Linked DNA regions of Homo sapiens: region 2 is linked to region 1. The links come from fine-mapping of genetic effects on gene expression. Tissue or cell type: whole blood. Region 1 holds a variant in brackets; the other region holds the start of a gene. All regions are shown on one strand. Distances are between the middles of the regions.

Evidence for each region. PIP is the estimated chance that this variant, and not a neighbour inherited with it, causes the effect.
Region 2: it holds the start of TAF13, and the variant in region 1 is fine-mapped to the expression of TAF13 in whole blood (GTEx, PIP above 0.99).

Annotation. Positions count from the first base shown.
Region 1 is chr1:109,021,450-109,026,657 of GRCh38, forward strand. WDR47 (WD repeat domain 47) reads right to left here. Exons shown (of 15, transcript NM_001142551.2): 2 at 1,906-2,072. The coding sequence starts at 2,063. Among named protein-coding and RNA genes, the nearest start is that of WDR47, 18 kb to the right of the region's middle. The variant TAGAAG/T (reference allele first, on the strand shown) is at 2,340.
Region 2 is chr1:109,073,637-109,078,764 of GRCh38, forward strand. TAF13 (TATA-box binding protein associated factor 13) reads right to left here and starts at 2,367. Exons shown (of 4, transcript NM_005645.4): 1 at 2,285-2,367; 2 at 1,351-1,429. The coding sequence starts at 2,311. TMEM167B-DT (TMEM167B divergent transcript) reads right to left here. Exons shown (of 2, transcript XR_947688.3): 2 at 4,656-5,010. RefSeq lists enhancers at 624-1,610, 2,215-2,274, 2,375-2,624.

The DNA.
Region 1 (5,208 bases):
CCCAGGAGGTGGAGGTTGTAGTGAGCTGAGATCATGCCACTGCACCCCAGCCTAGGTGACAAAGCAAGCCTCTATCTCAAAAAAAAAAAAAAAAAGGCGCAAGTATAAAATGTTCTGTAGAGCAATTATTTAAGATAAATTGGGAACAATTGTTTAAAATTAGGGGAGCCATTAGGAAATTAAGTAAACTGAAATTTTTTATTTGTAGCTGGAATTACAGGCATGCACCACTATGCCCAGCTAATTTTAGTATTTTTAATAGAGACGGGATTTCACCACGTTGGCCAGGCTGGTCTCGAACTCCTAACCTTAAGTGATCCACACGGCTCAGCCTCCCAAAGTGCTGGGATTACAGGCGTAAGCCACCACGCCTGGCCTTTTTTAATTTATTATTTATTTAATTTATTATTTATTTATTTATTTAGTCTTGCTCTGTCGCCCAGGCTGGAGTACAGTGGCACCATCATGGCTCACTGCAACCTCTGCCTCTCGGGCTCAAGTGATTTTCCTGCCTTAGCCTCTCGAGTAGCTGGGACTAGAGGCATGCACCACCACACCCAGCTAATTTTTGTATTTTTAGTAGAGACGGGGTTTCACTACGTTGGCCAGTCTGGTCTCAAACTCCTGACCTCAGGTGATCCGCCTGCCTTGGACTCGCAAATGGCTAGGATTGCAGGTTTGAGTCACCATGCCCAGCCTGAAAATTTTTTAAATATAAGTTTGTAATCACACAGAGAAACCTTGTGATGTTAATAGATAAGGCATGATTCTAAATCATAAACACAACAGAATTGTTATTTTTAATAGATGCAAAAAAAAGATGCACAGAATTTACACTCTAAGAATGAAAACAGCAAGGAATAAGAACAATATTATGTCTGTGTGGTGGGGTAATTTTTCTTTTATTTATCTTTCTATATTTTCTATAATGAACACATCTTATTTCTATGGCCAAAAAATGGTATTTCAGAAACATTTTCTTTACCTTTTCAAAGTCCGATTTTCTTAGTCAAATATCTTTTATTATCATACCACAACCACAATGGAGTGATGACTCTTGTTCTTTTTAACAGACCTCTGGGTCTTACTACTGAAAACATTCTACAGAAAGCATTATTTTGTAAATGTTCCTTTTTTTTATTTTTGTATTTTTGAGACGGAGTCTCACTCTGCTGCCCAGGCTGGAGTGCAACGGTGCGATCTCAGCTCACTGGAACCTCCGTCTCCCTGGTTCAAATGATTCTCCTGCCTCAGCCTCCCGACTAGCTGGGATTACAGGCATGTGCCACCATGCCCGGTTAATTTTTATATTTTTAGTAGAGGCGGGATTTCACCATGTTGGCCAGGCTGGTCTCAAAACTCCTGACCTCAAGTGATCCGCCTGCCTCAGCCTCCCAAAGTGCTGGGATTACAGGCGTGAGCCACCACGCCCAGCCTATTTTGTAAATGTTCTATTTTTAAAATATTTTTTTAGGTCGGGTGCGGTGGCTCACGCCTGTAATCCCAGCACTTTGGGAGGCCAAGGTGGGCAGATCACGAGGTCAGGAGATCGAGACCATCCTGGCTAACATGGTGAAACCCCATCTCTACTAAAAATACAAAAATTAGCTGGCCGTGGTGATGGGCGCCTGTAGTCCCAGCTACGCAGGAGGCTGAGGCAGGAGAATGGCGTGAACCCGGGAGGCGGAGCTTGCAGTGAGCCGACATCTCGCCACTGCACTCCAGCCTGGGTGACAGAGCAAGACTCCGTCTCAAAAAATAAAATAAAATAAAATATTTTTTAAAATTATACTTACATAGCCTTTTCATGATTATAAAGTTCTATCTGTATTATATATATTACCTTATTAATACTTAACATTTCTTCGAAGGAGCTACAAACTTCACAGTATAATGAAATCATACCTCAGGAAAAGCATATCATCTGAAAACAGGCCATTTATGACTCCACTTTCCTTCTCCAGGGCCAGCATACTAATGTGAAGCTTCTTTGAATTCAGGAAGTCCAAAATTAGCTTAATGATTTCAACCTCTTTTACATTCACTGTTTCTTCAGCCGTCATATTGATAGCCTAAATATGAAACAGAAAAACAATAAAGCTAGTCCTATTGATTTATTTCTAAGTTTAACTGCCTGGCAACTACACATAACAGGTTTACTGGGAATCTTTAGTACACATATTCTGAAGTGAAGTTAACTTAGTATTTATCAAAACCAAGTCGTTCTTTAATATGTGACAATGGTATGGCCATGATTTTTTAAAGTCCTTATCTTTGAAATACATATTGGAATAATTACAGATTAAATGATATAAACTTTGTGATTTACATGAAAATAA[TAGAAG/T]AGAAGAGTGGGAAGAGATAAAGATGAAACAAGAATGATTATGGTTACTGAAGCAGGGTAATAGGTAAATGAGGGTTTATTATATAATCCTGTCTACTCCTACATGTTTAAAATTTTCCATAATAGAGAATATTTTAAAAAGTCATTAATAACCAAACCATGTTTAGCTATGTCCCAAATACATTGTCCCAGGTATGCTCTAATACATTCACTCAATAAGTACTTAATGCCTTTTCTCTGTGACAGACATGATTCTGTACTCAGGAGACATTGGCCTTGCTTTAAGAAGCTTTAGTCTAGCAGTAATACCTAAATGATGACCTGGTCAGTACAGCGGAGCCAAACAAAACAAGGTTAGTTAAGATGTGCAACTTTAGGGCAGGTGTAGTGGCGTACGCCTGTAATCCCTGTACTTTGGGAGGCCAAAGTGGAGGGACTGCTTGAGTTCAGGAGTTCGAGACCAGCCTGGGAACCATGGCAAAACCACATCTGTACAAAAAAAATTAAAAAATTAGCAGGGCAAGATGGTGTGTGTCTATAGTCCCAGCACTCTGGAGGCTGAGGTGGGAGGATCGCTTGAGCCCAGGAGATCAAGGCTGCAGTGAGCAAAGATCGTGCCACTGCACTACAGCCTGAGCAACAGAATTAGACTCCGTCTCAAAAAAAAAAGAAAGAAAAAAGTGCAACTTTAGTCATATGGGTAATATCAGTGATATTTCAATACTCTCTAAGCTTCCTTCTAACTCTTACCTGTAGGTCTGCTACAACTGAGCACATAATGCTCAGGTTATGAATCCATAAAGATTTAGACCTGGGAGGACTATAAGATCATTTGTTCAACATTCTAATTTTACCAGTGAAGCCACACAAGTTAAATGGCCTAAACTGTTACAGTTTTCAAATGTTAAGGTTCAGAGCAATGCAAAATACCACCACACTAGGGGAGTAGCCACAAAGAAACTTCATCAGATGAAACAGACTATAAGCATATCTTTCTCACAGGACCAACTTATTCTAACCAAGCTTGCAGAAACATAAACATACACATGTGGACTGGGTGTAGTGACTCACGCCTGTAGTCCCAGCACTTTGGGAGGCTGAAGCAGGAGGATCGCTTGAGCCCAGAAGTTAGAAGTTACATACAGTGAGCTATGATCACACCACTGCACACCTCTGAACAACAGAGGAAGACCATGTCTCTAAACAAAACAAAACAAAAAATATATGTAGGCCCACAGGTTAGTGTTGTTTCCATTTCTTTACTTTTGGGTTGATTTTTTTGTTTATAACAAGAAATGCAAATGTCTAGCAGACTAGAATGCTCTCATCAGCAGATGAGTACATTTTCTCCCTCAGCTAGAGGCCTGGGCATGGTGGCTCACACCTGTAGTTCCAGCACTTTGAGAGGTCGAGGTGGGAGGATCACATGAGCCCAGGAGTGCGAGACAAGCCTGGGCAACATGGCGAAACATGGTCTCTACCAAAAATATAACAATCAGCCAGCATGTGTGCCTGTAGTTCCAGTTACTCAGGAGGCTGAGGTGGAAAGATCACTGGAGCCCCAGAAGTTGAGGCTACAGTGAGCGGTGATCATACCACTGCACTCCAGCCTGGGCGGTAGCGTGAGACTCTGCCTCAAAAAAAAAAAAAAAAAAAAGAAGGCTGGGCACAGTGGCTCACACCTGTAATCCCAGCACTTTGGGAGGCTGAGACGGGTGGATTATGAGATCAGGAGTTTGAGGCCAGCCTGGCCAACATGGTGAAACCCCACCTCTACTAAAAATACAAAAATTAGCGGAGCGTGGTGGCACGCACCTGTAATCCCAGCTACTTGGGAGGCTGAGGCAGGAGAATTGCTTGAACCCAGGAGGCGGAGGTTGCAGTGAGCCAAGATTGTGCCACTGCACTCCAGCCTGGGCAATAGAGCCAGACTCCATCTCGGAAAAAGAAAAAAAAACTAACAAATAAAAAAAAGTGGCGCTAGGGTAAACAAGGGACAAACCACAGAAAAATAATTATACGACTCACTCAAATATTTAATGACATCAGACTACACAAATCCCTCTGCAGAGTAAGAATATGTCTGTCTCAGGAAACAGTAAATCACAAACTTATCTCCCAACACACCAGCTACCCAACTCCGCATGCTTTAGGTTTCCCTTTCCTATCTTCTGAGCTGACCACCATCCTCCTGTTCACAGACTTCGTCCAAAAGAGGATACGGTAAAATAAGTTAAGATTTCCACTCACTAAATTCTTTTTTTTTTTTTAAAGACAGGGTCTTGCTCTGTCACCTAGGTTAGAGTGCAGTTGCATGACCATGGCCCACTGCAGCCTTGACCTCCCAGGCTCAAGTGATCCTCCCGCTTCAGCCTTCCAAGTACCTGGGATGACAGGTGTGTGCCACCGTACCCAGCTAATTTTTTATTTTACTTTTTGTAGAGACGGGATCTACCTATGTTGCCTAGGCTGCTCTCGAACTCCTGGGCTCAAGCAATCCTCTCGCCTCGGCATCCCAAAGTGTTGGGATTACAGGGATGAGCCACCGTGCCCACCTTTTTTTTTTTTTCAGGTTATCCGTGGAAACTACTCATTAAATTCTGATCATATCAGAACTGTCTCCCTAATATTATTCTTAGAGCACACTGATTAGTGATTTTAGCATTCCTCAAATCTTTAGACAATTCTTTTTTTTATTTTTACTGCTCCTTGCAGAGCAGGCTACCCAATAGGCAGTGTGCCCAGAGTAGCCCTTCAGGTAATTCTTACTAGCAAAAAAATGGCTTTTACTAATTTAACTCTCAGAAAAAAATATTCCCTCCTCTGTAGGTTCTTAGAGGGCACATCACATATATCTCCATGTA
Region 2 (5,128 bases), 52 kb after region 1:
GATTCCAGACGGAGTCTCGCTCACTCAGTGCTCAATGCTGCCCAGGCTGGAGTGCAGTGGCGTGATCTCGGCTCGCTACAACCTCCACCTCCCAGCTGCCTGCCTTGGCCTCCCAAAGTGCTGAGATTGCAGCCTCTGCCCGGCTGCCACCCCGTCTAGGAATTGAGGAGCGTCTCTGCCTGGCTGCCCATCCCCTGGGATGTGGGGAAGCACCTCTGCCCGGCCGCCCCGTCTGGGATGTGAGGAGCGCCTCTGCTCGGCCGCTACTCCGTCTGGGAGGTGAGGAGCACCGCTGCCCGGCCGCCACCCCGTCTGGGAGGTGAGGAGCGCCTCTGCCCGGCCACGACCCCGTCTGGGAACTGAGGAGCGCCTCCGCCAGGCCGCCCGCATCTGGGAAGTAAGGAGCCCCTCTGCCCTGCCGCCACCCTGTCTGGGAGGTGTACCCAACAGTTCATTGAGAACGGGCCATGATGACGATGGCGGTTTTGTCGAATAGAAAACGGGGAAATGTGGGGAAAAGAAAGAGAGATCAGATTGTTACTGTGTCTGTGTAGAAAGAAGTAGACATAGGAGACTCCATTTTGTTCTGTACTAAGAAAAATTCTTCTGCCTTGGGATGCTATTAATCTATAACCTTACCCCCAACCCCGTGCTCTCTGAAACATGTGCTGTGTCCCCTCAGGGTTAAATGGATTAAGGGCGGTGCAAGATGTGCTTTGTTAAACAGATGCTTGAAGGCAGCATGCTCGTTAAGAGTCATCACCACTCCCTAATCTCAAGTACCCAGGGACACAAAACACTGAGGAAGGCCGCAGGGTCCTCTGCCTAGGAAAACCAGAGACCCTTGTTCACATGTTTATCTGCTGACCTTCTCTCCACTATTGTCCTATGACCCCGCCAAATACCCCTCTCTGAGAAACACCCAAGAATGATCAATAAATACTAAAAAAATTAAAAAAATAAAATAAAGCAAAATAAAAACACACAAAAAAAATTAGGTGGGCGTGGTGGCCGGCGCCAGTAGTCCCAGCTACTCAGGAGGCTGAGGCAGGAGAATGGCATGAACCCGGGAGGCGGAGCTTGCAGTGAGCAGAGATTGCGCCACTGCACTCCAGCCTGGGCGACAGAGCGAGACTCCGTCTCAAAAAAAAAAAAAAAGCAATTTATACACACACACACAATTGGGGTTAGGATTGGTACTATCTGATTCAAAAGTTAAACAGAATTTGATAGGCTAGTCTGAGAATATTATCCCTACAGGGAAACATTCAAAGCAATAAAGCTACTTTGAAAGGACATGTCCAAAAGTTTTCATCATCTATAACAAAATCATTGTCAAATACTACTTACATTCTTTAGAAAAAAGTCTCTTTCTTTTACCCTGTCCACCTTCTGCACCTCCTCCAATTTCTTCATTTTCTTCCTCAAACTAGAAGTTAAAATGTATATATAGAAATGTCAAATAATTGCCTTGCATTTGATATTTTAATAATGACATTTTTTTTTCCTTTTCAACAGATAGGCCAGAAAGCCAAAGGAAGCAGCAAAAAAAAAAACCACGAAACCTTAGCATTGAAGGAGCCTATGTATCTAGTCCAACTTCCAACTCATGCAAAAATGGCTTCTACAATGTTCCTAACTAATAATCCTACTGCTTCTACTTGTAAGAGTTCCAATGACCATAAGTTTTATTTTTAAACAACTAAGGTGGCCTATTACTACTGTTACTGTTAAACAGTTGATACTGAATCAAAGTCTACCTTTGTAGACTTTGTAGTAAGCAAAACTAATATTTCCTATGCATTTGCTTATACAGTGCTAAAAACGTTCCTTAAGTAAGCCCGTAACCCTATTTTATAAAAAGAAAACTGATGTTCAAAGTTAAATAACTTGCTCAGAGAGAATGGAAATTTTGAAATCCAGGCTGTCTGACTTTCAATGCATTCTTTTCCCATTACTTCACAGTAAGTACAGTTTTGTTAACAATTGAACTGTTGGCTCATAGTGCGCGCTAATAGATGTTAGTTTTGATCTCTGATGATTCTGTACGTGTTTCAGTGTCTGGCAAATACAGACCAAAATCAAGGGGAAAGGGGTCACAAAACCTACTCTTCCTTCATGTCCTTCCCCACTTTCTAAAATGATCAATCCTTAGGGCGTGAAGTCCCCGAACTCTGTCCGCTGAATTCACTAAGGCAAGCAGACCCGATCCTGAACTCTGCCTCCGCTACTGAGCCCGAAGGAGTGAAGAAAAGACAGGTTTTGGACAGAGACGGTCACTCACCGTGGGGTCTTCTTCCTCATCTGCCATCCCACTAGCACGCCAACTCACAGCGTCCTGCCGGCTGGCTCCCAGCTGGTTACACTACTTCCGCCGCCTCACTTCCGGTGACGCGCGGGGCCGTAGCTGGGCCTAGCCCTCTGCGGCCTGCGGGAGGACGGTGGTGCTTTCCGGCCTAGCGGCGGAAATGCGACAGTCTCTAAGGGAGGAGGCCGGAGCGCCTCCCTGTAATCCCGAAGGAATTGAAAACTAACAAAGAAAAGGAAATCACGGGCTAGGTCGCGAGTATCTCGTTGTCACCCTGAATTTGCTACTGCGTATTGAATCACAGCTTCTTGTTTGGGGACTGCGAAGCTATGGATCATAGGAGGGCAAGCCAGCAGTCCTTTATCAGACAAATATGCTTTTAAATCATTTTAAAGATTTGTAGTTCCACTGTTTCTAAGCACTGTGTTAATTATTGGGGATACTGTGCTTCATCACAAATTTCCAAGAGATGGTGTCCCGAGACTAAGCATTTAAAATTTTGTGAAGGTTTTTTGATTTTTTTTTTTTTTTTTTTTGAGACGAAGTCTCACTCTGTCGCCCAGGCTGAAGTGTGCAGTGGCGCGATCCCGGCCCACTGCAACCTCTGCCTCCCGGGCTCAAGTGATTCTCCTTCCTCAGCCTCCCGAGTAGCTGGGATTACAGGCGTGCGCCACCATGCCCGGCCTTATTTTTGTTTTTTTGAGACACAACCTCACTGTCCCCCGGGATGGAGTGAAGTGGCGCAATCAGGGTTCACTGCAGCCTAGACCTGCTGGGCTCAAGCCATCCTCCCACCTCAGCCTCCAAGTAGCTGGGATTACAGGCGCACACCACCAATGCCCAGCTAATTTTTGTATTTTTAGTAGAGATGGGGTTTCCCCACATTGCCCAGGCTGGTCTGGAACTCATGGCCTCAAGCGATCTGCCCCGCTCTGCCTCCCAAAGTGCTGGGATTACAAGTGTGAGCCACCGTGTCCACCGGGGAAGGCTTTTGGTCAGAACAATGGCTGGCAAAACCACAGGCATCGGAAGGCCAGAGCTAGGGATATAATATAAATGTCCCTACAGTGTAACAGATGATGCTACATAAAGAAAATCCCGTAATACACACGATTTCTGAATGTCCTGCTGAACATTCGGTGAGTGAAAACTAATTATCTGAGAGTTGAACCTATCTTTGTTAATAAACACAAAGCGGCCGGGCGCAGTGGCTCACGCCTGTAATCCCAGCACTTTGGGAGGCCGAGGTGGGCGGATCACAAAGTCAGGAGATCAAGACCATCCTGGCCAACATGATGAAACCCCGTCTCTATTAAAAGTACAAAAATTAGCTGGGCGTAGTGGCGCACGCCTGTAATCCCAGCTACTCGGGAGGCTGAGGCAGGAGAATCGCTTGAACCCGGGAGGCAGAGGTTGCAGTGAGCCGGGATTGTGCCACTGCACTCCAGCCTGGTGACAGAGCGGGACTCCACCTCAAAAAATAAAAATTAAAAAAATAAACACAAAGCATTTTCCCACACTTTTAATGTACGTTGAAGTTTCTAGGAATGTTATTACCCCAAAATTGAATAGTAATTGTATTTTGTTTGGTCTGGAATTCATTAAGAGCTGTGTACCATTTCAAGAAATAACGTCACCAAAAGCAACATCACTTGTAATAATTTGAATAGTGAATAATGAAAAAATAACTTTGATTTGAGGAATGTGAGTTAAATTATTAGGCCCAAAGAGGCATTAAAATGAGAGGCAATCACATCCTGCTTGCCCCCTTTTGAGCTATGTATTTATGTCTTAAAACCGCTTGCTATTGCCACAAGTATTAGTTATAAATTAGCCTAATTATGCCCCATCAGACACCATATCGCACACCCTATAGCTTGATAATGTTTAGCCAATTACTAATCAATGTTATTTTTGTGAACCAATGAGAACTCCTTAAAGACAACTTTGTATCAGCCCACTCCCTGTCCTCATTCTTTTCCTTTAAAAATCCACTTGTACCTGCTGCTAATCTTAGAGTGTATATTCTAGGCAACTTTATGCTGCTGAGTTGTAATCCTCAAGTTTGGCCCAAATAAACTCTCTATTTATATTAATTTTGCCTCAGCTTCTTCCTTTTAGGTCGACAATACTCACCCAAATCAGTCTGCATTCAAAGCAATTCTACATATAGGTAGAAGCATCTGAAATCTTCATTATCCCCCCCTAGTGCCATCATACCTGAGTATTTATATATTGAAACAAATGTTACTATTTTTACTTTACTTTTATATTACCTTTATGCCTGACCTCCTGGCCACTGGATCACTGGATCCTGTTAGGATATTATGTTATTTTCAAAATTATGTGAGTAGGTAGATATATTAGTTATTTATTGCTGTAACAAATTACCCCAAAACTTAGTGGCTTAAAACAAATATCACACAGTTTCTGTGGGTCAGCAATGTGGGTGCAATTTAACTGGGTGCCTGTGGCTCAAGGTCCCTCCTGTTGCAGTCGGGATGTTGGCTGGGGCTGCAGTCATACCTCAAGTGTTGATGGAGGAGAATTTGCCAGAGTCACTCACAGGTTGCTGGAGGTTTCACTTCCTCCAGGTTGTTGGACTAAGGGCCTCAGTTCTTTAATGGATGTTGCCCAGAGGTCTCCCTCAGTTCCTTGCCATGTAATCCACTCCATAGGGCAGCTCACAATGTGCCAGTTGCCTTCCTCCAGAGGACACAAGTGGGAGAACCCAAAAGACAGAAATCACAGGTTTTTTGTTACCTAATTTTGGAAGTGACATCCTATAATTTCTGCCCTATTCTATTCACTAGAAGTAAG